Homo sapiens: one gene and its partners. The protein of the gene in region 1 purifies or fractionates together with the protein of each later gene. This does not show direct contact. Each region holds a gene or a part of one and is shown in the gene's direction. Other genes may lie near its edges.

Evidence for each region.
Region 2: the proteins of PCDHA12 (region 1) and CNNM1 purify together in Homo sapiens (affinity purification with mass spectrometry; 2 studies listed by BioGRID and IntAct, with this or other methods). This does not show direct contact.
Region 3: the proteins of PCDHA12 (region 1) and TMEM192 purify together in Homo sapiens (affinity purification with mass spectrometry; 2 studies listed by BioGRID and IntAct, with this or other methods). This does not show direct contact.
Region 4: the proteins of PCDHA12 (region 1) and HCN1 purify together in Homo sapiens (co-immunoprecipitation; one large-scale study listed by IntAct). This does not show direct contact.
Region 5: the proteins of PCDHA12 (region 1) and SLC25A15 purify together in Homo sapiens (affinity purification with mass spectrometry; one large-scale study listed by BioGRID and IntAct). This does not show direct contact.
Region 6: the proteins of PCDHA12 (region 1) and ACAD10 purify together in Homo sapiens (affinity purification with mass spectrometry; 2 studies listed by BioGRID and IntAct, with this or other methods). This does not show direct contact.
Region 7: the proteins of PCDHA12 (region 1) and TCEAL2 purify together in Homo sapiens (affinity purification with mass spectrometry; 2 studies listed by BioGRID and IntAct, with this or other methods). This does not show direct contact.

Annotation. Positions count from the first base shown.
Region 1 is NC_000005.10:140,881,808-140,885,307, forward strand, and holds part of PCDHA12 (protocadherin alpha-12 isoform 1 precursor), read left to right. Parts: intron 1-316; exon of another isoform or gene 317-461; coding exon of another isoform or gene 462-2,885; exon of another isoform or gene 2,886-3,073; intron 3,074-3,500. Other genes in the region: PCDHA13 (protocadherin alpha-13 isoform 1 precursor), read left to right, coding at 462-2,855. UniProt on the Homo sapiens protein: Potential calcium-dependent cell-adhesion protein. May be involved in the establishment and maintenance of specific neuronal connections in the brain.
Region 2 is NC_000010.11:99,381,356-99,384,855, forward strand, and holds part of CNNM1 (metal transporter CNNM1), read left to right. Parts: intron 1-3,500. UniProt on the Homo sapiens protein: Probable metal transporter.
Region 3 is NC_000004.12:165,106,361-165,109,860, reverse strand, and holds part of TMEM192 (transmembrane protein 192), read left to right. Parts: intron 1-3,500.
Region 4 is NC_000005.10:45,254,448-45,256,914, reverse strand, and holds the end of HCN1 (potassium/sodium hyperpolarization-activated cyclic nucleotide-gated channel 1), read left to right. Parts: 3' UTR 1-1,967; downstream 1,968-2,467. UniProt on the Homo sapiens protein: Hyperpolarization-activated ion channel that are permeable to sodium and potassium ions. Displays lower selectivity for K(+) over Na(+) ions.
Region 5 is NC_000013.11:40,799,611-40,803,110, forward strand, and holds part of SLC25A15 (mitochondrial ornithine transporter 1), read left to right. Parts: exon of another isoform or gene 1-1,114; intron 1,115-3,500.
Region 6 is NC_000012.12:111,692,553-111,696,052, forward strand, and holds part of ACAD10 (acyl-CoA dehydrogenase family member 10), read left to right. Parts: intron 1-144; 5' UTR 145-157; coding exon 158-344; intron 345-3,500.
Region 7 is NC_000023.11:102,124,505-102,128,212, forward strand, and holds TCEAL2 (transcription elongation factor A protein-like 2), read left to right. Parts: upstream 1-1,174; 5' UTR 1,175-1,302; intron 1,303-1,868; 5' UTR 1,869-1,941; intron 1,942-2,299; 5' UTR 2,300-2,326; coding exon 2,327-3,010; 3' UTR 3,011-3,208; downstream 3,209-3,708. UniProt on the Homo sapiens protein: May be involved in transcriptional regulation.

The DNA of each region.
Region 1 (3,500 bases):
AATATTCTTTGTCTTAAAGTTCTGCATGGAATTCTTACACATGGAAAAATAAATTTGTGGCAAAATGAAACTCATCAACCAATTGTCAGCTAATATAAAATGTTGAGCAGAATGCAGTGATTTGCTGTTTCTGGGAAGGTAAACATTTAATCTTCAATTACATATTTGCAGTGAAAATGTCAGGAAATGCAAGGGGCAAAAAAATACTACATCAATGGAAAATATGAAGACTGAGTCATACTTACACTTACACGTTCATGCGCATGGTGTCGCTCTTCACTGAGAACGTTTCCGCGAAGAAAGCCGCCGTTTCTTTCTTCCTGCAGAAAATATAGCAGAAAGCGGAATACCTCTTGCGAATCCTTCCGCACTAGGAAGCCATAAAAATTGGGCCTTGAGAGACAGTTTGAGGTAAGGCGTTGTATATATTGCAGATAGCTCTGAGGTTTTTGGAGTGTACCATGCTGTCTTCCTGGCAAGGAGGCCCAAGACCGCGGCAACTACTGCTCTGGCTTCTGATCCTCGCAGCCTGGGAGACGGGTAGTGGCCAGCTCCACTACTCCGTCCCCGAGGAAGCAAAACACGGCACCTTCGTGGGCCGCATCGCTCAGGACCTGGGGCTGGAGCTGGCGGAGCTGGTGCCGCGCCTGTTCCGGGTGGCGTCCAAAAGACACGGGGACCTTCTGGAGGTAAATCTGCAGAATGGCATTTTGTTTGTGAATTCTCGGATCGACCGCGAGGAGCTGTGTGGGCGGAGCGCGGAGTGCAGCATCCACCTGGAGGTGATCGTGGACAGGCCTCTGCAGGTTTTCCATGTGGAGGTGAAGGTGAGGGACATTAACGACAACCCGCCCATATTCCCTGAAAGCAAGAAACGAATAATCATTGCAGAATCTAGACCTCCGGAAACTCGATTTCCACTAGATGGCGCATCCGATGCAGATATTGGAGTAAACTCGGCATTGACCTACCGACTGGATCCCAACGATTATTTCACTTTGGACGCACAAAACAGTCTTGAGCAAATGTCTTCATTATCACTTGTACTGAGGAAAACACTGGACAGAGAGGAAATTCAGGAACATAGTTTATTACTGACAGCCAGTGATGGAGGTAAACCCGAGCTGACTGGCACAGTTCAGCTGCTCATCACGATTCTGGACGTGAATGACAACGCCCCGGAATTTTACCAATCCGTTTATAAAGTGACGGTGTTAGAGAACGCCTTCAATGGAACATTAGTGATCAAGCTAAATGCCACAGATCCTGATGATGGTACAAATGGAGATATAGTTTACTCATTTAGAAGGCCTGTATGGCCTGCAGTGGTATATGCATTTACCATAAATCCGAACAATGGAGAAATTAGGACAAAAGGCAAACTAGATTTCGAAGAAAAGAAATTATATGAAATATCCGTGGAGGCAGTTGACAAAGGAAATATTCCAATGGCGGGTCATTGTACCCTTTTGGTGGAAGTACTAGATGTAAATGATAACGCCCCAGAGGTTACCATCACTTCTTTGTCACTCCCCATCAGAGAAGACACTCAGCCTAGCGCCATTATTGCCCTAATCAGTGTGTCCGATCGTGACTCTGGCTCAAATGGACAGGTCACCTGCACCTTGACGCCGCATGTCCCCTTCAAGCTGGTGTCCACCTACAAGAACTACTACTCATTAGTGCTGGACAGCGCCCTGGACCGCGAGAGCGTATCAGCCTATGAACTGGTGGTGACCGCGCGGGACGGGGGCTCGCCTTCGCTGTGGGCCACGGCCAGCGTGTCGGTGGGGGTGGCCGACGTGAACGACAACGCGCCGGCGTTCGCGCAGCCCGAGTACACGGTGTTCGTGAAGGAAAACAATCCGCCGGGCTGCCACATCTTCACGGTGTCTGCTCAGGACGCGGACGCACAGGAGAACGCGCTGGTCTCCTACTCGCTGGTGGAGCGGCGGGTGGGCGAGCGTGCGCTGTCGAGCTACGTGTCGGTGCACGCGGAGAGCGGCAAGGTGTACGCGCTGCAGCCGTTGGACCACGAGGAGCTGGAGCTGTTGCAGTTCCAGGTGAGCGCGCGCGACTCTGGCGTGCCGCCTCTGGGCAGCAACGTGACGCTGCAGGTGTTCGTGCTGGACGAGAACGACAACGCTCCGGCGCTGCTGACGCCCGGGGCTGGCAGCGCGGGAGGCACAGTGAGCGAGCTGATGCCGCGGTCGGTGGGTGCAGGCCACGTGGTGGCGAAGGTGCGCGCGGTGGACGCCGATTCGGGCTACAATGCGTGGCTTTCGTATGAATTGCAGCTGGCGGCGGTCGGCGCGCGCATCCCGTTCCGCGTGGGGCTGTACACTGGCGAGATCAGCACGACGCGCCCTCTGGACGAGGTGGACGCGCCGCACCACCGCCTTCTGGTGCTGGTGAAGGACCACGGTGAGCCCGCGCTGACGGCCACGGCAACGGTGCTGTTGTCGCTGGTGGAGAGCGGCCAAGCGCCACAGGCTTCGTCGAGGGCGTCGGCAGGCGCTGTGGGTCCAGAAGCGGCGCTGGTGGATGTCAATGTTTACTTGATCATTGCCATCTGCGCGGTGTCCAGCCTGTTGGTGCTCACGTTGCTGCTGTATACTGCGCTGCGGTGCTCGGCACCGCCCACCGAGGGCGCGTGCGCGCCGGGCAAGCCCACTCTAGTGTGCTCCAGCGCGGCAGGGAGTTGGTCGTACTCGCAGCAGAGGCGGCCGAGGGTGTGCTCTGGGGAGGGCCCGCATAAGACGGACCTCATGGCCTTCAGTCCCAGCCTTCCTCCTTGTCTGGGTTCTGCAGAGGGAACAGGCCAGAGGGAGGAGGACTCAGAATGCTTGAAAGAGGTAAGCTTATATTTTAAAAAATTGTCTTAGTAAACACTTTAGCCTTCCTTGCAGTTGTTTGTTTAAGACATCTTTCCTGCCAATTTCAAATTATTCTTTACTTTAATTTTAATTTTGCTAGTTGTTATCGAATTTAACAACTCTGCTGTGGACATTATGTGTTGGATTATCCTTCAGAGTGAAATCTTAACTCACAAACCATAATGAAATGTGCAAAACAAGAATATTTTGTTTCTGTTGTATTCTTAATAGTTCTAAGTATTTATCTTGCAATTGAGCATTTACAAAAAATTCCTCACGTTGTGAGAACTTAAACATTTAGAAAATGTTTGTTTTAATGAGGCTAATCGTAATCTTAAATTTAAAAAATTTTTAGTTTAATGTATACATATACCCACAAGATATTATTTTAAAGAGCCCCATAACTTTTCACATAAATGCTTTTTTTAAGTGCACTTTTCTTTCTTTCTTTTTTTAAACTGTTTTGATTGTCTCTACTTTTTTGTCCTCTAGGCACATCAGTGTTCCCCTCTCATATATCCCATGAAAAATATCTTGTGATTCTGCTTTCAATTTTTTATTTGCATTCAGATAATTACTCATACATATATATATACATATATAGAGAGAGACCTGGTAGGCTTT
Region 2 (3,500 bases), on another chromosome or scaffold:
GTGAGCCGAGGCCATTGCACTCCACCTGAGCGGCAAGAGTGAGACTCTGTCTTCAAAAAAAAAAAAAAAAGGAAAAAAAAGAGTGTTATTCAAAAACCTCTTTAGGCCAGGCGCGGTGGCTCACACCTGTAATCCCAGCACTTTGGGAGGCTGAGGCAGGCAGATCACTTGAGGTCAGGAGTTCAAGACCACTCTGGCCAACATGGCGAAACCCCATCTCTACTAAAAATAAAAAAATTACCCAGTCATGGTGGCAGGCACCTGTAATCCCAGCTACTCGGGAGGCTGAGGCAGGAGAATTGCTTGAACCCAGGAGGCGGAGGTTGCGGTGAGCCGAGATCGGCGCCACTGCACTCCAGCCTGGGCGACAAGAGCGAAACTCCGTCTCAAAAAAAAAAACCAAAAAACAAAAAAAAAACTTTGATTAAAATGGGTAGTTCTCCAAAAAGGAATTCTGTGAGTTCAAGCTCTTTTTTTTAACACAAGTGTCTTTTTTGTTTTGATTTTCTCTTTTCTTTTTTTTTTAATATAAGATTCTGCCTTAGATTAACTTTGAAAATTACCTCCTCCTGATTGATTAGACTGTGTTAGGGACGTTATTTAGGCCACTCATTTATCTACTTCCCTCACCTGTCTCTCCCCATCTTTCCTTCTGTTGTTATTGTGTTTTTTAACATGAGGGTTTTGGGGGAAGCTAAAGAGAAGACTGCAAGATGAGTGTTTTCACAGGGCGAAGCCCCTGTGGTTGGCTGCTGGAAGGTTTCTCAAGGGCTTTTTATATCCAACAGACTGAAGGTCCAGAATTAAGTCCAGGAGTAATTGAACTTCAAGATAAGTTACAAAATGAGATAGAAAGGTGCATCTAATAGTTATCTGGGAAAGGTGTTAAACAAAGCCATGATTAATGGTAGTTAATAAGTTATGAAGGTACCAAAGAATTCTTATGAAGTAAGTTTTTTGAAATGTGTTCTGTGTCATCATTAAGCTAAGACTACTTGGCAGATGTCTTACAGTCTGGACTACGTAACCTTGACCAAGATTCCTCATCACCCTAGATTGCAGCATTGTGTCTTCAGGGATGAATAAACCACTTGAAAGTGAAAACAACATCATACCATGATAGGAGGCCAGGTGCAGTGGCTCACACCTGTAATCCCACCACTTTGGGAGGCTGAGACAGGAGAATCACTTGAGGCCAGGAGTGTGAGACCAGCCTGGGCAACAAAGTGAGACCCCCATCTCTATAAAAATAAATTTTTAAATTAGCCAGGCATGGTGGCATGCACTTGTAGTCCCAGCTACTTGGGAGGCTGAGGCAGGAAGATTGCTTAAACCCAGGAGTTCAAGGTTACAGTGAGCTGTGATCATGCCACTGCACTCCAGCCTGCACAGCAGAGTGAGACCCTGTCTCTAAAATAAAATGACAGGAGACATCACATTAGCCTAAAGGTTAACTTCTGGACACCTTGGCTGCTAAGTCAAAAAGTCCAGAAAGCCACCCTTGCTTTTCACTACTTTCAGAATAAACAGACCTCCGCTTCCTTTGTAGCTTAGTGGGTGATTGGATTCTAAACTGGCCACTCTATAAGAGAAGACAATTTGAACTAAAGCTGTTGCTAATAAATGGTTATATCTACTGCAATGAAGAGGAAACAAAAACATGGAGTCTGTTGAAAAGTGGCTTGATTCCCTCAGTCAACTAATTGATAAGTATTTGTTAAGCATTAACAATGGTTCTGGGTGCCATGAGCTATACTACAGAAATATAAATCTAATAAAAATATATCCTCTGCCTTATAAGTAGATTAAGACCAGTTAGAGAGAGGAAGCTTAAGGTAAGTTAAATAATAGTGACCAATGCAGGGTACTATCTAATTCATTACAAAATTATGTGGAATTTTTTTTTGTTTTTTGACGGAGTCTCACTCTGTCCCCCAGGCTGGAGTGCAGTGGCGTGATCTTCTACCTCACTGAGTTCAACTCAGTGAACTCACTGCAACCTCCGCCTCCTGAGTTCAAGCGATTCTCCTGCCTCAGCCTCCTGAGTAGTCAGGATTACAGGCATGCGCCACCACGCCTGGCTAATTTTTGTATTTTTAGTAGAGACAAGGTTTCACCATGTTGGTCAGGCTGATCTCGAACTCCTGACCTTGTGATCCGCCCGCCTCGGCCTCCCAAAGTGCTGGGATTACAGGTGTGAGCCACTATCTGGAATTTTTTAAGCACTAATTGGCTGGAGAATGTACTTTAGGAGTTTGGAAAGAACAAGAGGAGAATTAAGGCAATGCCATGCAAAGGGACACCCTTAAACAGGTATGGAAGGCAAGTAGACATGGCGCATTCGAGGGACTGGGTAGAGAGAGAAGCTGGGTGGGACCAGTGGTTCTGTCCTGGTGAGTAGTGGGAGTGCTGTTGGCCCTGCGAGGCCAGGTCATCGAAACTGGGCACAGCTGTTTAGGCCGTCCACTAAACCTTCACCATCCAGTACAGCAGCCAGTAGCCATGTATAAATACAGCCATTTAGTTACATGTGGCTGTTGAATGCATGAAGTGTGTCTCTTTCCAACTGATGTGCTATAAGTGCAAAATACACATTGTATTTCAAGACCAGTGCGAAAAAGAATGTAAAATTCCTCACTAATCACTTTAACTAATCACATGATGATGTGAAATTATTTTGGATATATTGGGTTAAATGAAATATGTTATTAAAATTAACTTGTTTTTACTTTTTAAAATGTGACTACTAGAAAACTTTGAATTACCGACGGGACTCACGTTACATTTCTCTTCAACAGTATTACGCTAGATTAAAATAAGTTGTCATGAGTTGTTGAACAAGGGGAAGGAACTGACAAGAAGTGATACCCGAACCTAGAAATGCCTCTGGGAGAGGCAGAGCAGAGTTGCTTCCCTGGATACATTGGCACCTTGTCAACAATTTCTTTTAAGGCAACACATTGACATGGCAGGAGTTCATGATTTAAAAAAAAATTTTTTTTAAAAAGAGAGCTGTGTGAAAGAAAGCAAGGCTGTTAAGGCTGTGAGTCACATAGAGGATTTAGCCATTGGGTGGTACCTTTCCTTTTATATAAACACCCACCAACAGTGCAGACCCTCTCCAGCCCCTCCCCCTCCCCACCCTCACTGCCATACACTGCCGTGCTTCTTCCCACTAGTGTGGCCGTCTGAATCTTCTCTTTAGCATCACTGACAAGTGGTGGCTTAACATCTGTGTGAATGCCTCCAATGATGAGGAACTCGGTACCTCACGAGGAAGTGTGTCCCATTCACTCAGTATTGTTACCAAAAATACTTTCTTCCCGTCCTTTCCTCCCTGACAATGCTTAAAAAGAGGGTTAGAGTTCCTGGATCCTTGATTCCAGGTAACAAGAGGGGCTTATCATTGTTTTTTAAAAACAAAAAGAGGCCGGGTGCAGTGGCTAACACCTGTAATCCCAGCACTTTGGGAGGCTGAGGAGGGTGATGTCACCTGAGGT
Region 3 (3,500 bases), on another chromosome or scaffold:
GAACATAAACTTGGTTAGGACCTTGAAAGATGCATAGAATTCTGAAAAAGGTAAGGGAGGATATTTGTAGGGCTCTATAGAAAGCTCATTTAGGCGAGAGAAGAAGGTGCATGAAAGTGACATATTAGGAGATAAAGTAGATTATTGTCTTATAGTGAAGTTTTCAATGCTAGCTTTGTTTAAATGTCCCAGGTCTGGCCAGGTGCGGTGGCTCACGCCTGTAATCCCAGCACTTTGGGAGGCTGAGGCGGGTGGATCACCTGAGGTCAGAAGTTTGAGACCAGCCTGGCCAACATGGCGAAACCCGGTATCTACTAAAAATATAAAAATTACCTGGGCATGGTGGCACATGCCTGTAATCCCAGCCTGTGGTCAGGAGGCTGAGGCAGGAGAATTGCTTGAACCTGGGAGGCAGAGGTTGCAGTGAGCCAAGATCACACCATTGCACTCCAATCTGGGCAACAAGAGCGAAATTCTGTCTCAAAAGTAAATAAATAAATAAATAAATAAAAATTTCCCAGGTCTGAAGCATACAAGAAGTTGAGCAGTCTTTCTTTCTCTCAACACGCATATTGAACACCTTAGCATCTGCTGTGTATCAAGTGTTAAAAGCACAAAGGACATAATATAAAAGAGTCTCTGCCCTTGTAAAGCACATTTTATTCTGACAATTTCAATGCCATGTGCTTAGTATGGTAGGTTATGATACAGATACAGATGTAAGAGAGTTCAGTAGGGACTTCCATTCCCAGCCAACATGGAGTAACTGGGAATAGATATACCATTCTGCCTGAAACAACCAAAAAGCTAGATATAACGTATGATACAACACTTTGTGAGATACCGGACATCAGACAATGAAGGGTAGCAATCTCAGAGATGGGAAACAAATGCTGTGAACCCTATCACTGCTCCGGCTTACTGCCTTGAAAGAGTGTGCAGGCTGTGACAGGGAAGGGGGAAGCCAGGCAGAGCCCAGCAGACTTCTGAGTTGAGGAGATGGAGTTGAGGGTCTAGGAGATCGAGGTAACTGGAGTTCACAAGACAGAGCACCCAGAGAGGAGAGAGCTACAAAGAGGGAGAACTCTGAAGATATGCACGGGGAGCCCCCTGGCCCTGCGCCTACCAGGCATCCAGTAGAGTGCTAATCAGGGCATGAGGAAGCTCTTGGAGGCCTCATAAAGAACCACCTAAAAGGATTGGAAGGAACAGTTTCTCCATACAGGGCCAAGAATACTGCCTATTTCACCCACAAGCCAGACGGAACCCTCATAATTCACAGAGCATGTAGGTAGAGTACTCAGAAAGGTCTTGCCTCAGTAGTGGAGGCCTTAGATTAGCCTTAGATGAAGCCCACCTAATTTCTTAACAGCAAGACTGTTTCCAAGTAACTTGACTGCACTCCAGAACAAAGTTCACGAATATAGGATTACAGAAAATGGCCGGGTGCGGTGGCTCATGCCTGTAATCCCGGCACTTTGAGAGGCTGAGGCGAGCGGATCACGAGGTCAGGAGATCGAGACCATCCTGGTTAACATGGTGGAACCCTGTCTCTACTAAAAGTACAAAAAATTAGCCGGGCGTGGTGCTGGGTGCCTGTATCCCAGCTACTTGGGAGGCTGAGGCAGGAGAATGGTGTGAACGCAGGAGGCAGAGCTTGCAGTGAGCCGAGATCATGCCACTGCACTCCAACCTGGGTGACAGAGCAAGACTACATCTCCAAAAAAAAAAAAAAAAAAAAAAAAAAAGGGAATACAGAAAATACCCAGCACCCACAGAGGTAAAATTTGCAATATCTGGCATCCAATAAAAAATGACAAGGCATGCTAAGAGGCAGGAAAATGTGAGCTGTACTGAGTCCACTGAAACTGATTCAGACATGACATAGGCTAGAAATAGCATGTGAACATTAAACATTATTATAAATGTCTTCTATATATTTAGAAGTTACATAGAGACATGGAAGATACAAAGTAGACCCAGCTCAAACTTGTACAGATGAAAACTACAATGTCAGATTAAGAGTGCAGTAGGAATGATGCTGGGGCTGGGAATGCTAAAAAGGCACCGCAGAGAAGGCGGTTTTGCTGGGACAAGCATTTGACAGGTGGGGAAGAATAAGTAGAGCTGGTGTAGAGATGGAAAGTGTTTCATGAAAGACGGGTATCATAAGCAGACGGCACCAGGAGGGAGGGAAATGGTGAGAGGCAAATCCTTGGCCAGGCGTGGTGGCTTATGCCTGTAATCCCAGCACTTTGGGAGGCCAAGGTGGGTGGATTGCTTGAGTTTTGGAGTTCAAGACCAGCCTGGGCAACATGGTGAAATCTCACCTTTACTAAAAATACAAAAATTAGCCAAGCATAGTGGAGTGTGCCTCTGGTCCCAGCTACTCGTGAGACTGAGGTAGGAGGATTTCTTGAGCCTGGGGAGGGGGGCACGGAGGCTGCAGTGAGCCGAGATCGTGCCACTGTTCTCCAGCCTGGGTGACAGAGTGAGACCCTGTTTTTTTTTTTGTTTTTGTTTTTGTTTTAAAAAAAAAGGTTGGGTACAGTGGTTCACACCTGTAATCCCAGCACTTTGGGAGGCTGAGGGTGGACCACTTGAGGTCAGGAGTTTGAGACCAGCATGGCCAACATGGTGAAACCCCGTCTCTATTAAAAATACAAAAACTAGCTGGACAAGGTGTCGGGCACTTGTAATTCCAGCTACTTGGGAGGCTGAGGCAGGAGAATTGTTTGAACCCAGGAAGCAGAGGTTGCAGTGAGCTGAGATCATGCCATTGCACTCCAGCCTGGGGGACAGAGCAAGACTCTGTCTCAAAAAAAGAAAAAAAAAAGAGAGAAAAAAAATCCTGAGAAGTTACTTGGGGACAGATTGTAAAGCGATAGACTAAGAATTTGGACTTTGTCCTGAGGATTTGGGGATCGTATTAGGATTATCCAGAGGGACAGAACCAATAGGATATATGTATATATAAAAAGGGGGTTTATTAGGGAGAATTAGCTCACAAGATTACACAGTGAAGTCCCATGATAGGCCACCTGCAAGCTGGGGAAAGGGAAGGTGGTAGTGGCTCAGTCCAAGTTCAAAAGCCTCAAAACCAGGGAAGCCAACAGCGCAGCCTTCAGTCGGCAGCCGAAGGCCTGAGAGCCCCAGGCAAGCTGCTGGTGCAGGTTTCAGAGTCCAAAGGCCGAAGAATCTGGAGTCTGATGTCCAAAGGCAGGAATTAAGGAGGCAAGCATCTGACGCAGGAAAGAGAGAGCCAGAAAACTCAGCAAGCTGCTTATACGCCTATTCTGTGCTTTGTTCTAGCTGCATTGGCAGCTGATTGGATGGTGCTTGCCCATATTGAGGGTGGGTCTTCCTCTCCCAGTCCACTGACTCAAATGTTTGGCTCCTCACAGACGATACTTTGCCATCCATTTGACACTTAATATTGACCATCATAGGGAGCTACCCAAAGTTTTTGAGGAGAGAAACACGAATGTTTGTCTTGGAGC
Region 4 (2,467 bases), about 96 Mb from region 1:
AGTGATAAAATAATTTTGGCTAAAATAAAGCAAGTTCTCAGGCCAGGCGTGGTGGCTCATGCCTGTAATCCTAGCACTTTGGGAGGCCAAAGTGGGAGGAATGCTTGAGGCCAGGAATTGGAGACCAACCAGGGCAGCATGTCAAGACCTGGTCTCTACAAGGAAAAAAAATTTTTTTAATTGACCAGTATATACTTACATACCTGCAGTGTTTAGAAAACCCGACTATAGGTGGTGTATTCCTGTAGTCCTAGTTACTCAGAAAGTTAAGGCAGGAGGATCGCTTGAACTTAGGAGGTCAAGGCTGCAGTGAGCCCTGTTCGTTCCACTGCACTCCAGCTTGGGGGACAGAGCAAAACCCTTTCTCAAGAAAAACCCAAACAAACAAAAAAGTGAAGCCAGTTCTTTAATTTCTATTGGAGATATCACACACGCTCCAAAGAGTGGCAAAGGTGAACATTCTTTGGAGCTATTATATTTCTAATGTAACATCAATGGCCATTTACTCCCAAAGGGAAACATCTTTTTTTTTTTTTTTTTTTAAGATGGAGTCTGGCTCTGTCACCCAGGTGGGAGTGCAATGGCAGGATCTTGGCCCACTGCAACATCAGCCTCCCAGGTTTAAGCAATTCTCCTGCATCAGCCTCCAGAGTAGCTGGGATTACAGGTGCCCGCCACCATGGCTAGCTAAATTTTTGTAATTTTTAGTAGAGACAGGGTTTTACCATGTTGGCCAGGCCGGTCTCGAACCCCTAACCTCAAGTGATCCGCCCGCCTCACCCTCCAGAAGTGCTAGGATTACAGGCCTGAGCCACCGCACCCGGCCCTGCTATTTTTTTCTATGTAGTTGTTTCAGTAATACCATATGAGCAGAGAATACTATTGATTCATTCAATTGAAGAAATCTGAATAAATTAGTAAATATAATAATTCTTCAAAAGAGGACCACTTTATGTTTCCAATAGATTATATAATTGAATTCAGGTAACGTAGAGTTATTCAGACTTTTTTTTTTAAATAACGGAATTTTGCAAAAAAACAGGTTGCATCGTTTTCTACAGAGAATATTCAGATGTGTAGAGGCAAAGAGACTTTCTTGAAAGGTTTTTATTTCCTGTTAAATTTGTGAGGAAAACTCCTGAGAAAGGAAAGATTTACTTTTGAAGGAAGAAAGAACATAACCCAAAGAAATTTGAAAGATTCAAAAAGAGTTTTCCAAATGTATTCTCATTTCTTTCTCATATTTGTTCAAGGTCTTAGTTTCCAAGCATTCAAAATTAAATCTTGTTTGCCTAACTCTTCTAACATCTATTACCAACCTAACATATTACAATTCTGTTTAAAATGTGCAGTTCTAAATGTTCTTGCGTGCCTCACTGTGGAAAGTGTGGTGCATGGAACTGCAGCGTCAGTATCACCCAGAAGTATAATTACAAGAAGTGCAGAGTCCTTGGCCTTACCCTGTACCTACAGAAGTCCGCTTTTGGGCAAGATCCCCAGATGATTCATATGTGTATTAATATTGAAAAAATTGGAACTAGTAAGTCCTAGAGGAGGTAAATTTTAAGGGCTTTTTAAGGGAACTTCCAAGTGTGAAGACATTTCTGGAGATGACAAGTCAACATAGCATGGGATCTTGGCTAGACAAGGAAAGCGAGAGAACATTAAATAAACACAAGCAACGACAAACCACCTATGTTATAATTTTATCCTGGACCATCCAAAGTTTACTCTTGGTCACGCTGTCTAACCCAGCCTGCCTCCTGGCACTTGCTAGTTAGAACCAGGGAAGAGAAAACTAATATGTGTTAGGTATTATAATTTCCTTATGTCACATAAATTTTGGTGCCATAGCTAGCAATGTTTCTTAATATCACATCAGTACAATGTGTCCATTGCCTTCTGTAACATTTTTAATGCTATCAATAATACATTGACATTATAAAAATAAATGAATGTGGTCAATATTTTGCAAAGAGCTTCTCTTCATCAGCTATATCTATACACCTGCAGTGTTTAGAAAGCCTGACTACAAAAACTGGCTCTACTGCTTATGTCTTGCTCTACTTGCTTATTCTACCCATGGTAGAATTATATAGTCATATTGTGTCCGGAGTTGGTTCCTTCCAGTGGGTTCATGGTCTCACTGACTTCAAGAATGGAGCCACGGACCTTTGCGGTGTTACAACTCTTAAAAATGGCACAGACCCAAAGAGTAAGGAGCAGTAAGAGTGAAAACAAAGCTTCCACAGGTGGAAGCAAACCCCAGTGGGATGCCTCTGCTGGCTTGGGGGTGGCCAGCTTTTATTCCCTTATTTGTCCCCTCCCATGTTCCATTTTTGTCCTATCAGAGTGCCTTTTTTCAATCCTCCCTGCGATTGGCTACTTTTAGACTCCTGCTGATTGGTGCATTTTACAGAGCACTGATTGGTGCATTTTACAGAGCGCAGTTTGGTGCATTTTACAA
Region 5 (3,500 bases), on another chromosome or scaffold:
TGTCATCATATAAAACTTAGAAACCACATATGCACACCACAGAGGAGACCTGCTCATCATCCACCACTGAGAATGAACCGCCCTTCTGTTTCAGTTTTCTCCAGGAGAATGCTGTTCAGATGCAGCTGGCAGTGCTACCTCTCGTCAGCAGACATGCTGCACTGAAACTGTAGATGCTGCTTATGATCCAAGATTTAGCTTTTCTTTCATTAGCAAAAAGCAGAGTATTGGAAGAGGTTGTCTGAGCCAGATGAACTTGAGGAGTTTTAGGAAGGGTCGGAAATGTCTGCGAAGATGCAAGGGAACCCACCTTTCTCTGTCCAAATCTTCCCAAAACATCAGACTTTGCCTCTTTGTTGGTCTTGCCTTGGGTATTTATTATATAGAGACTAAACAGAATTTGGAAACCACTGGGATGTTTAGCTATCCCTGCTTTGAATGTTGATTTATTTTATACCACTTAAAATTATTATATAAGCTTCAAGATTGCAAAGGGCAGTCTTAGTTATTTCAGTAGGAGTTTGAAACCTGATTGCAGCTGCAGGTCCCACACAACTGAATTCGGTTTCTTGTGCACAGCACTGTTCTCTGGAGGTGCCTGGAGGTCTGAAGGTGTGCCCTTTTATAGACAGGAATTCCACCATGATGGGTAGAGCTTGTTTTTTAAAAAGGCTTGGGACTAGATACGATTGCCCAAGAAGACAGTGTAGACAGCGAGGAGGGCTGAGCATGAATGGGATGAGCCTCCAGCACAGAAAGGGCAGGCAGGAAGGCAGTAAAGAAACAAGCAGGGCACAAACCAGGAGAGTATGGCATGCCATGATGGAGACTGAACAGAAGCAAAAACTACAGGCAACTGTAGTTTTGTTCCCTGTTGAAGGAGAGACACTCTATTAGAGAAGACCTGGAATTCAGTTCAGTTTCCTTAGCAAAGGACAAAATGGGGAGAGAAGACAGGGAAACAGTAAGCAGCCACGTGAGATTCTGGGGAAGACCTGTGTCTTCTGAGCAAAGTAGCCCCTCCAGCCACAGGATAGACAGTGACTTCTGTCTTGCATGAGTGAAACCACTGGATCTGGCTCTGCCCGCCCCTCCACTTTCTTGCTTCCTTAGCCTGTGAACAAAGTGAAGGACAGGTAAGAGCATATTGCTTTTCTGCTGAGAACAATCTAATACCTTACAGCTGCATTTTCCCACACTGCTTTCAGAACATTGAATTGCTGGGTGTCCTTAAGAAAGGGTTGGGAAATTACGTCACAGTGTCTCTCTCGTGAAGAATCACTCTGGGTACATTTATTTCATATAGTGTATGTGTTATTTAGTTCATTAAAGATGCGTAAGGCTGGGCACAGTGGCTCACGCCTGTAGTCCCAGCACTTTGAGAGGCTGAGGTGGGCAGATTACTTGAGCCCAGGAGTTTGAGACCAACCTGAGCAACATGGCAAAACCCCGTCACTACAAAAAATACAAAACTTAGCTGAGTGTGGTAGCACATGTCTGTGGTCCCAGCTACCAGGGAGGCTGAGGTGGGAGGATTGCTTGAGCTCAGGAGGCAGAGGTTGCAGTGAGATGATGCCACTGCACTCCAGCCTGGGCAACAGAGCGAGACTGTGTCTCTCAAAAAAAAAAAAAAAAGAAAAGAAAAGAAACCATCCTGATTAACCTTGTCTAATCCAGCACTCATCTTTTTTGAGCTTGGGCCCGTTTTTTTTTTCCATCCTGAGGAACAGTGTTTGCCTCTTACCTGTTGGGGAAATGCTCTCTTAGAGTCTACAAAGCTCTGACATGTATATCATGTCTCTATAGCCCTCACCGTGATCCTGTGAGAAGAGCAAGGCAGATGTTACCTCTCTTAGGGATGGAAAACTGAGGTGCCGATGTTGACCTGCTCAAGGTCACCCCGCTAAGGACTTGAAATTGTGTCCTCTGAGCTCCTGCCCAGTCTCCTTTCCATCAGACCACAGTTGGGGGTCTGGAATATTTTATAAGGGTCAGTTCTAGAGAGAAGATTAATCAGGAGCAGTGAAAGGAAAGAACTGCTTGTGAGAGCCTGTGGTGAATTTCTGCAATCACATTGTAAATATTTGTCTGTTCCCGGTTTCAACATGACCCAGAATGTTCTAGTTTGACGTTTGGCTGGACAGGGTCTTACATAGCAGGAGTGCTCAGGTACATGTTTGTTGAACATATGACAAATGGATGATTCTTACAAAATCCCATCCTATACCTATTACTGTTTCAATTCCAGTTCTACACATTCATACTACATGCAGAACCAGGGGCCCATGCACCTCCTTCTGTGCACTGGTCAATGAAAGTATTTATTGGAAAGCCAAAGTCCACTGCATATCTGATTTGACTGTGTCCTTGCACTATAATAATGTGCTTGGTGTTCATTCAGATGTCTGAGCCATTATTATATCTTAAACTCAATAGACTTCTACATTTATTGACTGCCACCTTTGTCCTGGCAAACTTGGCAGATCCTGGTTAATGCTCCTAATTGACTATTGCCTGTCAACAGGTTAACAGAGAGTCCCTGAGGGAGGCCAACTGTGGATCTGCAGGCTGGCTGCAAGACAACAGAAACCATTTTAAGCTTCAGTTCTAACAAGCTGCTAAGGAGTGAAGTGGGGGAAAGGAGTGGACTGAACAGCATTGGATGGTTTCCACACCCCATAAAAGCGTGTGCAAGTACATTTGTGTACCTGGTTCTCCTTTGCTAATGGTTTTAGGCTTAATTCTCTAACATCAAAAGGAAGTCCTTACTGCAAACAGTGTCTTCCTACTGAAAGAAAGCTCCACTCTAAGCCAAGTCTTCTGAAAGAGTTGCCTCTGGCCATGGTACAGAAGCTAGACCACCAGGGACTAGCAAACCAGGGCCAAGACTGGTGCCACCTTGATTTTATACTAATCTTTAACACTGGAAAAACTTGAGTACCCCTGAATATGGTAAGTCCATCTGTGCTTTTTTTTTTTTTTTGAGACGGAGTCTCACTCTGTCGCCCAGGCTGGAGTGCAGTGGCGCAATCTTAACTCATTGCAACCTCGCCTCCCCAGTTCAAGCAATTCTCCTGCCTCAGCCTCCCGAGTAGCTGGGACTACAGGCGCCCACCACCATGCCCAGCTAATTTTTGTATTTTAGTAGAGATGGGGTTTCACCATGTTGGCCAGGATGGTCTTGATCTCTTGACCTCGTGATCTGCCCACCTCGGCCTCCCAAAGTGCTGGGATTACAGGTGTGAGCCACCGTGCCCTGCCCCATCTGTGCTTTTGCTCACAGTTTGGAGAAAAATTGTTAGGGGATTATATCTCTACCTGAGTAGTTAGCTGAGGAGATTCCCACCCACCCTTAGGGGTTTTTGGAAATCTCTGAGGGTGATCTTGGCTGTCCAGTGAGAGCATGATGCTGGCATTGAATGGGTGTCAGGGAACCAGTTCAGTCCTTCCTGCCCAATGAAGGATTGTCCTACCCCCAAATGCCAGTCATGATCCCATGA
Region 6 (3,500 bases), on another chromosome or scaffold:
CACTGAGGTCAGTTGTGGGTGTGATTCGAAGTGCCTGTTGGAGATGGGTTAGAGATGTCTGGCTGGCCCCTCTGAGCTCCAGGATGGAGGCCTGGTTGGGAGGCAGTGCAGGCAAGTAACGCCCTGTGCCTTCTTCCCACACAGCCTCAGCCTCACCATGTGTGTCAGGAGCTGTTTCCAGTCCCCCCGTCTCCAGTGGGTGTGGAGAACAGCCTTCCTGAAACACACCCAGCGCAGGCACCAGGGGTCCCACCGATGGACACACCTTGGAGGCAGCACCTACAGAGCGGTGATTTTCGACATGGGCGGAGTTCTCATTCCTTCTCCAGGGAGAGTCGCTGCAGGTGAGCTATTGATTCTGTTTCACTTTGTGGGACTAGAGTGGTGGTGGGAGAATGGAGGGTGATCGGGAAGGCAGAGGGGAACACTTGGGCAGCAGTGTGTCCCAGCAGGCCATGCTCTGGCTCTCGAGTCGAATTCCAAGCACCACTAGGGGGCTGAGTGTCTTGGGCGCATGATTCAGCTTCTCCAAATCTTACTTTCCTCATCATTAAATGAGCTAATGGTAGTGCCTTCCTCCTTGGGATTTGGCGGAGAGTTATCCGTGGGAAGCACTTGCTTAGCACAGTGATTGCTCAGTGCATCCTAAATTCTCAATCAATGATGAGCTGCCATGAATGCTGTGATTAGAATTTAACCACCAAGGCAGGGCACAGTGGCTGAAGCCTGTAATCCCAGCACTTTTGGAGGCCGAGGTGAGAGGGTCGTTTGAGCCCAGGAGTTCAAGACCAGCCTGAGCAACATAGTGAGACCCCGTATCTGCAGAAATTTAAAAATTATCTGGGCATGATGACAGGCACCTGTAGTTCTAGCTACTCAGGAGGCTGAGGTCGGAGGATCACATGAATCCAGGTGGTTGAGGCTGTAGTCAGCCGTGATCATGCCACTGCACTCCAGCCTGGGTAACAGAGCAAGACCCTTACTCAAAAACAAACAACCAAAAATCCCAAAGAATTTAACCACTTCTTCTTGGGAACTGTTCTACTTCTGAAATCTAGAATGCTGAAATTCCCCTTTTGATTACAGCCTTCCTCCCTTCTACCCCACTCCCTCTAAACCTGCTTCTGGACTGACAGGGTAAGGGTCAGCCCTCTGGTCTCTGGTCTTCTCTTTACCAGCCCCTTCCTGGTTTTACTTCTTTTCTACTCAGTTCAGTTTTTATTAGTTAAAGTCGTTTTGGCTTCAAGCAGTAGAAAACCTAACAAAACAGTGACTGAAACAAGCTAGAAGTTTCTTTCTCTTGCACATAAAAGCCCAGGTATGTGGTCTGGGGCACTGTGTGATGCGACTCTGTGGTATCAGGGACTCCGACTCTTTATAGCATGTTGCTCTGCTGTGACTTTTCATTTCCACTCTTACATTGTGGTCTGTCTTGGCTGTGTCGCCTCCTGCTATCATATTCTCATGCCAGCCAGCAGGAAGGACAAAGGGCCAGGCAGCCATCCCTCTCCTTTTGACCTTCTGTGGTGGCTGGTTGGCCAGTTCTCCATCCTAAATCAACCCAGGCACAGGTTTTCTATGCCTGCGTGTCTAGGCTTTCCAGCACTGCTGACCAAATTACTCAGCCGTGCTAACTGGCTGCACAAGCTGGTTTCTGAGCTCCAGCCTCAGTTGGGCCATTGGTGCTACGCCTGAGCCTCTCTGTTCCTTCACTCTTATCTCTCTGTTCCTTCACTCGTATCTCTGTCATGTTTACCTCAGGGGCTGTTCCAGACTGTCCACTCCCCCTGCTCCTTACCACCCCCAAATATTCTTGCTCTGCAGATAGCTGAATCTGTTCTTCTACAAAGAACATAAAGACTAAACCTGAGCAACACAGTGAGACCCTATGGTGAGCTAGGATTGCACCACTGCACCCCAGACTGGCACAACAGTCTTTTTTAGAGAACCTGTCTCTAAAAAAAAAGGCAGCAGGGAAGAACATAAAGATCACTGGACAGAAAGTTTCTTGACTTTCTCTAGAATATCTTAAGAACCAATTCACTTCTCTCCATTGCCACTGCCTCCACCCTTGCCTTCTCTCACCCAAATGATGTCATCAGCCTCCTAACTTCCTCTGCCTCTGGCTCTCTGGATTTTACAAAATCTCCTCCCAGCTCCAGAATTAACCTTTCTAAAACATGGATCGTGCTTCTGCGCTTAGCAGCTCACACCTGTAATCTCAGCAATTTAGGAGGCCGAGGTGGGCAGATCGCTTGAGCACAGGAGTTCAAGACCAGCCTGGCCAACCTGGTGAAACCTTGTCTCTACGAAAAATACAAAAAGCGTACCTGGGCATGGTGGTGCATGGATGTAGTCCCAGCTACTTGAGGGGCTGCGGTGGGAGGAACTCTTTAGCCTGGGCGATTGAGGCTGCAGTGAGCTGAGATTGCACCACTGCACTCCAGCCTGGGTGACAAAGTGAGACCCTGTCACAAAATAATAAATAAAATAAAAATAAAGCATAGATCTTGTTCCTTTCATCCCTGGCTTGAAAATCTTGAATGCCTGCATGTGGTCCCCTAGATTAAGTCTAGAAGCTTTCACCTGGGATTCAGGGCTCCTCTCAGTTTTAGCTTTCCTGCTATGGACTACCTGATGCTCCCCAGGCATGCCAGGCACATTTGCATGTTTGTGCCTTTGCAAGCTGTGTTTCCTCCCTGCCTCCTCTGCCTGTTCAAATCCTACTGATGCTTTTAATGGCAAATTTAAGGGGATATTATTCAGCAATGACTGGAATCTTTTGAACACTCAGTAAATCTCATGGTTGTTACTAACTTCAAGAGTCCTCTTCTGTCAAGACTTCTCCAACCTCATTTGCAACCTGGGCAGAATGTTCCTGGATAGCCAATTCCCATTAAGTTTCACCTTCACCGAGATATTTTTGTTTGCAGTGGGATATGTTCATGTCTCCTCTATGGGGCTCTTGGATTCCAGGACCCCAGGTCTGGGATTTCTTCACTTCACTGTTGCAGTGTTAGCTCTGCAGGCTGGCTCAGTCATTCAGGAAATGTTTGATGGGTAAATGTGAACAAAATAGTGATGCCTTCTACTTTGTCTTTTGCTTGACTGGAGCTTCTAATGTTATTTATTTCAAATGAACCATATCAAGGGTCATTTGATAAGAATATACTAGAATTGGCCAGGTGCGGTGGCTCATGCCTTTAATCTCAGCACTTTGGGAGGACGAGATGGGCGGATCACTTGAGGTCATGAGTTTGAGACCAGCCTGGCCAACATGGCAAAATCCAATCTCTACTAAAAATTCAAAAATAAGCGGGGCATGGTGATGGGCACCTGAAATTGCAGCTACTCTGGAGGCTGAGCAGGGAGAACCACTTGAACCCGGGAAACAGAGGTTGCAGTGAGCTGAGATCATACCATTGCGCTGCAGCTTGGGAGACAGAGCAAGACTCTGTCTCAAAAAAAAAAAAAGTATATATATATATACACTAGAATTA
Region 7 (3,708 bases), on another chromosome or scaffold:
GGTATTTTGCAAATCAAAATAAAAATAGTTGTTGCCCAGATATACACAAGACATACACATACATATGTACACACATATACATCTATACATATATGTGTGTATAAATAAACATGTGTATATATACATATACATGTCACTATACTGTAGAAGCTAAAATATTGGTGATTCTTAGTTTTTGTGGGTGGTGGCTTCACGAATGTGAAAGAAAAGGAAAGAAAAAAAAGACAAAGGATGGGAAGGGGAGGAAATAATAGGACGGGAAAGAAAAGGGAAGGAAGAGGGACAAGCAGGGATCGATGATAAGGGTGTGTTGTAAACCAAGGACTATGATGAATTTGTGCATCTGAAATTCATATTTAAAATGTTTTAATGCTTTCTTTTCTACCTGTCTGACATTCTCTCTCTATGAAAACTGATCAAATGTTGGAAGGTAAGTTTCAAGTGTGGAGAGAGACCAAGGGAGATGGCAAGAAGGAAGTTGGTAAATCAATTTGGGGTACACGGGCTTTGGGGTCCCTCAGGGACACTCAGGCGGTGATGTCCAATAGACAGTTGGCAAAGCTGATATGAGACACGGAGAAGGGAACAGCCTGGAGCTGTAGATCTGGGAGTCATCGGTGTTTACTGGAAATGAATGAGATCACACAGGGAGAGACAACTTGAGGACTGAGGAGAGAGGAGGCCCAGGACAGAACCCCAGGAACACCGCCACTCAAGGTGGCAGCTCAGCTTCCTGGCAGGCACCACTACCCCCCGGGCTCTGGAGTCAGGCAGAGCCGGTATTGAAAGTGGGCTGTGGAGTTCTGGGGCTGAGCGCTCTTGGCAAAGTCCGGTACCTCTATGATCAGCTGTCACACCTGGCGATAATGGGCATCAGAGAGATATGCCTTGCGAGGATGCTGTGAGCTGCGTCAGGTAAAGCACCTAGGGTCAGAAAGCCACCTCTCCTCCTCTTCTCCGCGACCCCACTTTGCTACACAAACGCACCGAGACTCCGACCGTCCCCAGCCTCCGGTCCCTCAGGGATGGAAGGTGAGGTATGTCAGGAAAGAGAGGGGGGCCCAGCTCCAAGGTGAGGTGTGTCAGGCAAGAGCGGGGGCAGAGCTCCGGTGACGCGGTGCTCACGTGACCCGCCCGGCGCCTACGTGGGCACCAGCCCCCGCGCCCGCCCGCCAGCCCGCCCAGCGGTCGGGTCCGGGCGCCCGCGCAGAATCAGCTGTCTGAGCTGCCCAGGCGGCGGGGGAGCAGCGAGCGGGCTTCAGCGAGCCGCAGGAGGCACAGGCCTGTCCTGGGTCCCCGCAGGTCAGTGTGAAGGCGTGCGCTGCCGGCGGACCCTGGGACAGGGGTGGAGGGGGCTGGCAGTAGGATTGGGGAGGGGGCGGAGAAGGGATCCGGTAGATTGGGGAGGAGGGGGATGCGGAGTCGCGGGGGCGGGGGCAGTGGAGGGAGAACCCCCGAAGCAAGCCTGGCTCGCCTTCTCGACGCCCCCTTGCACTGAGTCCTCCATCCATTTTAGTGCTGGAAATGGGGGGTGGGGGTAGCGACCCCGCAGTGCGACAGTGAAACGTAGACATATTCTGGAAATAACCCCTTCTCACAATCTACACCCATGGAAACACTTGATCTCCGCAAAAATGAGGTGGCGCTGGGGCAGGTTGCCTCCGGGGAAGGGGGACACAGAGACAAACGCAGTTTGGAAAGCATCCTGGTTTGGTGCCCGAGGCCTGGAAAGAAATGGCGGCTGGGGTGCGGGGGAGGTAGGGGAGGAAAACGGTGGGTAAGCAGGGCCTGGACTCAGGAAAGGGAACCGAGTCCCTGTGAGCCCGCTAAGCGCGCAGCCCCTGCCCCTGTCTCCTGTCTGTCCGCAGGTCTGCGCGTCTGTTGTTCCCAGCGCTCTGAGAGGCCTGAAAAGGAAGAGCAACCTGTCCAGAATCCCCGCAGGTCCGTGAAAGCAGGGGGCTGCATGGACAGGGGCCCACAAGGGTTGAGAGTGTGGAGGGCACAGTCAGGGCCGAATTGGGGCCCCTGCCCATCCCCTTACCTACATGAACACACACCTTACCAGGCTGAACCAGTGCAGAGAAGGTGGCAGGGCCTGCCAGGGAACAGCTGGCTCACGTGTGTGGGAGGAGTGGTGGGCTACGTGGTGGGCAGAAGGCCCTCTTGGAGGCCCAGTCAGCTTAGGGGAACCCTCACCAGGGGTGAGATGCAAGTAGTATCCAGACCTGCATTCCACCCCATGCCCTCAGTCTCCCATGTCTCCTCTTTGTCTCCTCTTCCCTCCACACCCATCCCCCAGGAAAGGAAAAGGAGGGGAAATCTCGACATGGAAAAACTCTTCAATGAAAATGAAGGAATGCCTTCGAATCAAGGAAAGATAGACAATGAAGAACAGCCACCGCACGAGGGAAAGCCAGAAGTAGCTTGTATTCTGGAAGACAAGAAGTTAGAAAACGAGGGAAACACAGAAAACACGGGCAAGAGAGTTGAGGAACCGTTAAAGGATAAAGAAAAGCCAGAGAGTGCGGGAAAGGCAAAAGGAGAAGGAAAGTCAGAGAGGAAGGGAAAGTCAGAGATGCAGGGAGGATCAAAGACAGAGGGAAAGCCAGAGAGAGGGGGAAGGGCAGAGGGTGAAGGAGAGCCAGACAGTGAAAGAGAGCCAGAGAGTGAGGGAGAGCCAGAAAGTGAAACAAGGGCTGCAGGAAAGCGCCCAGCTGAGGATGATATACCCAGGAAAGCCAAAAGAAAAACCAACAAGGGGCTGGCTCAGTACCTCAAGCAATATAAGGAAGCCATACATGATATGAATTTCAGCAATGAGGACATGATAAGAGAATTTGACAACATGGCTAGGGTGGAGGATAAAAGGAGAAAAAGCAAACAGAAATTGGGGGCGTTTTTGTGGATGCAAAGAAATTTACAGGACCCCTTCTATCCTAGGGGTCCAAGGGAATTCAGGGGTGGCTGCAGGGCCCCACGAAGGGACACTGAAGACATTCCTTATGTGTAGTGTCCCTGGCAGGCATTTGTCAGGCCATATGTTTTAACCTTATGGTAATACTTTGCTTTAGTCGTTCCTCCTGCTACCAGTAGCGTTTTGACCCACCTGCCAGTGTTTGCTTGCTCTATGTTTCAGTAGCAGATTTTCACACATGTGCATTGCAGAGACGTCATGATTCGTGGAAAAATAAAGCAGCTTATAATATCATCTACAGAATCTGTCTGTTTTTGTTAAATACATGAAAGGTTAACAGTGGTTTTCTGAGTTGTGAGCTAGCAGGTGATTTCATTTCTTTGTTTTCTTTCTACTAATCTTTCTTTTCCCAGAGAACACAAATTACTTTTCTCACAAAAATAATAAAATATTTTTAAAAAATCAGAACAGTATGTAAAAAGCAAAGAGAATAACTGTCCAGTGAACTTATGAAGTTCAGTAGAGACACTTAACGTTCTTGTTGTCAGAACTTAAAATGATAGGTAAAATTCACATTACCTACCTGTGGGACTCATCTGGAGAAGTCAATCTGGGGTTATTACAGATCCATTGCTCTAACGGACAGTCTTTTCATTTGTCAAATAGAGATAATACCTTGCTTTTCAGAACTGCTGAGTGGGTTGGATAAGGTAGAGAATATATTTGTTGGGTTGGCATCTACCTTCTCCCCTGCTCTAGCAGAAAAAAATACCCCCTCAGACACTTGGAAGAGG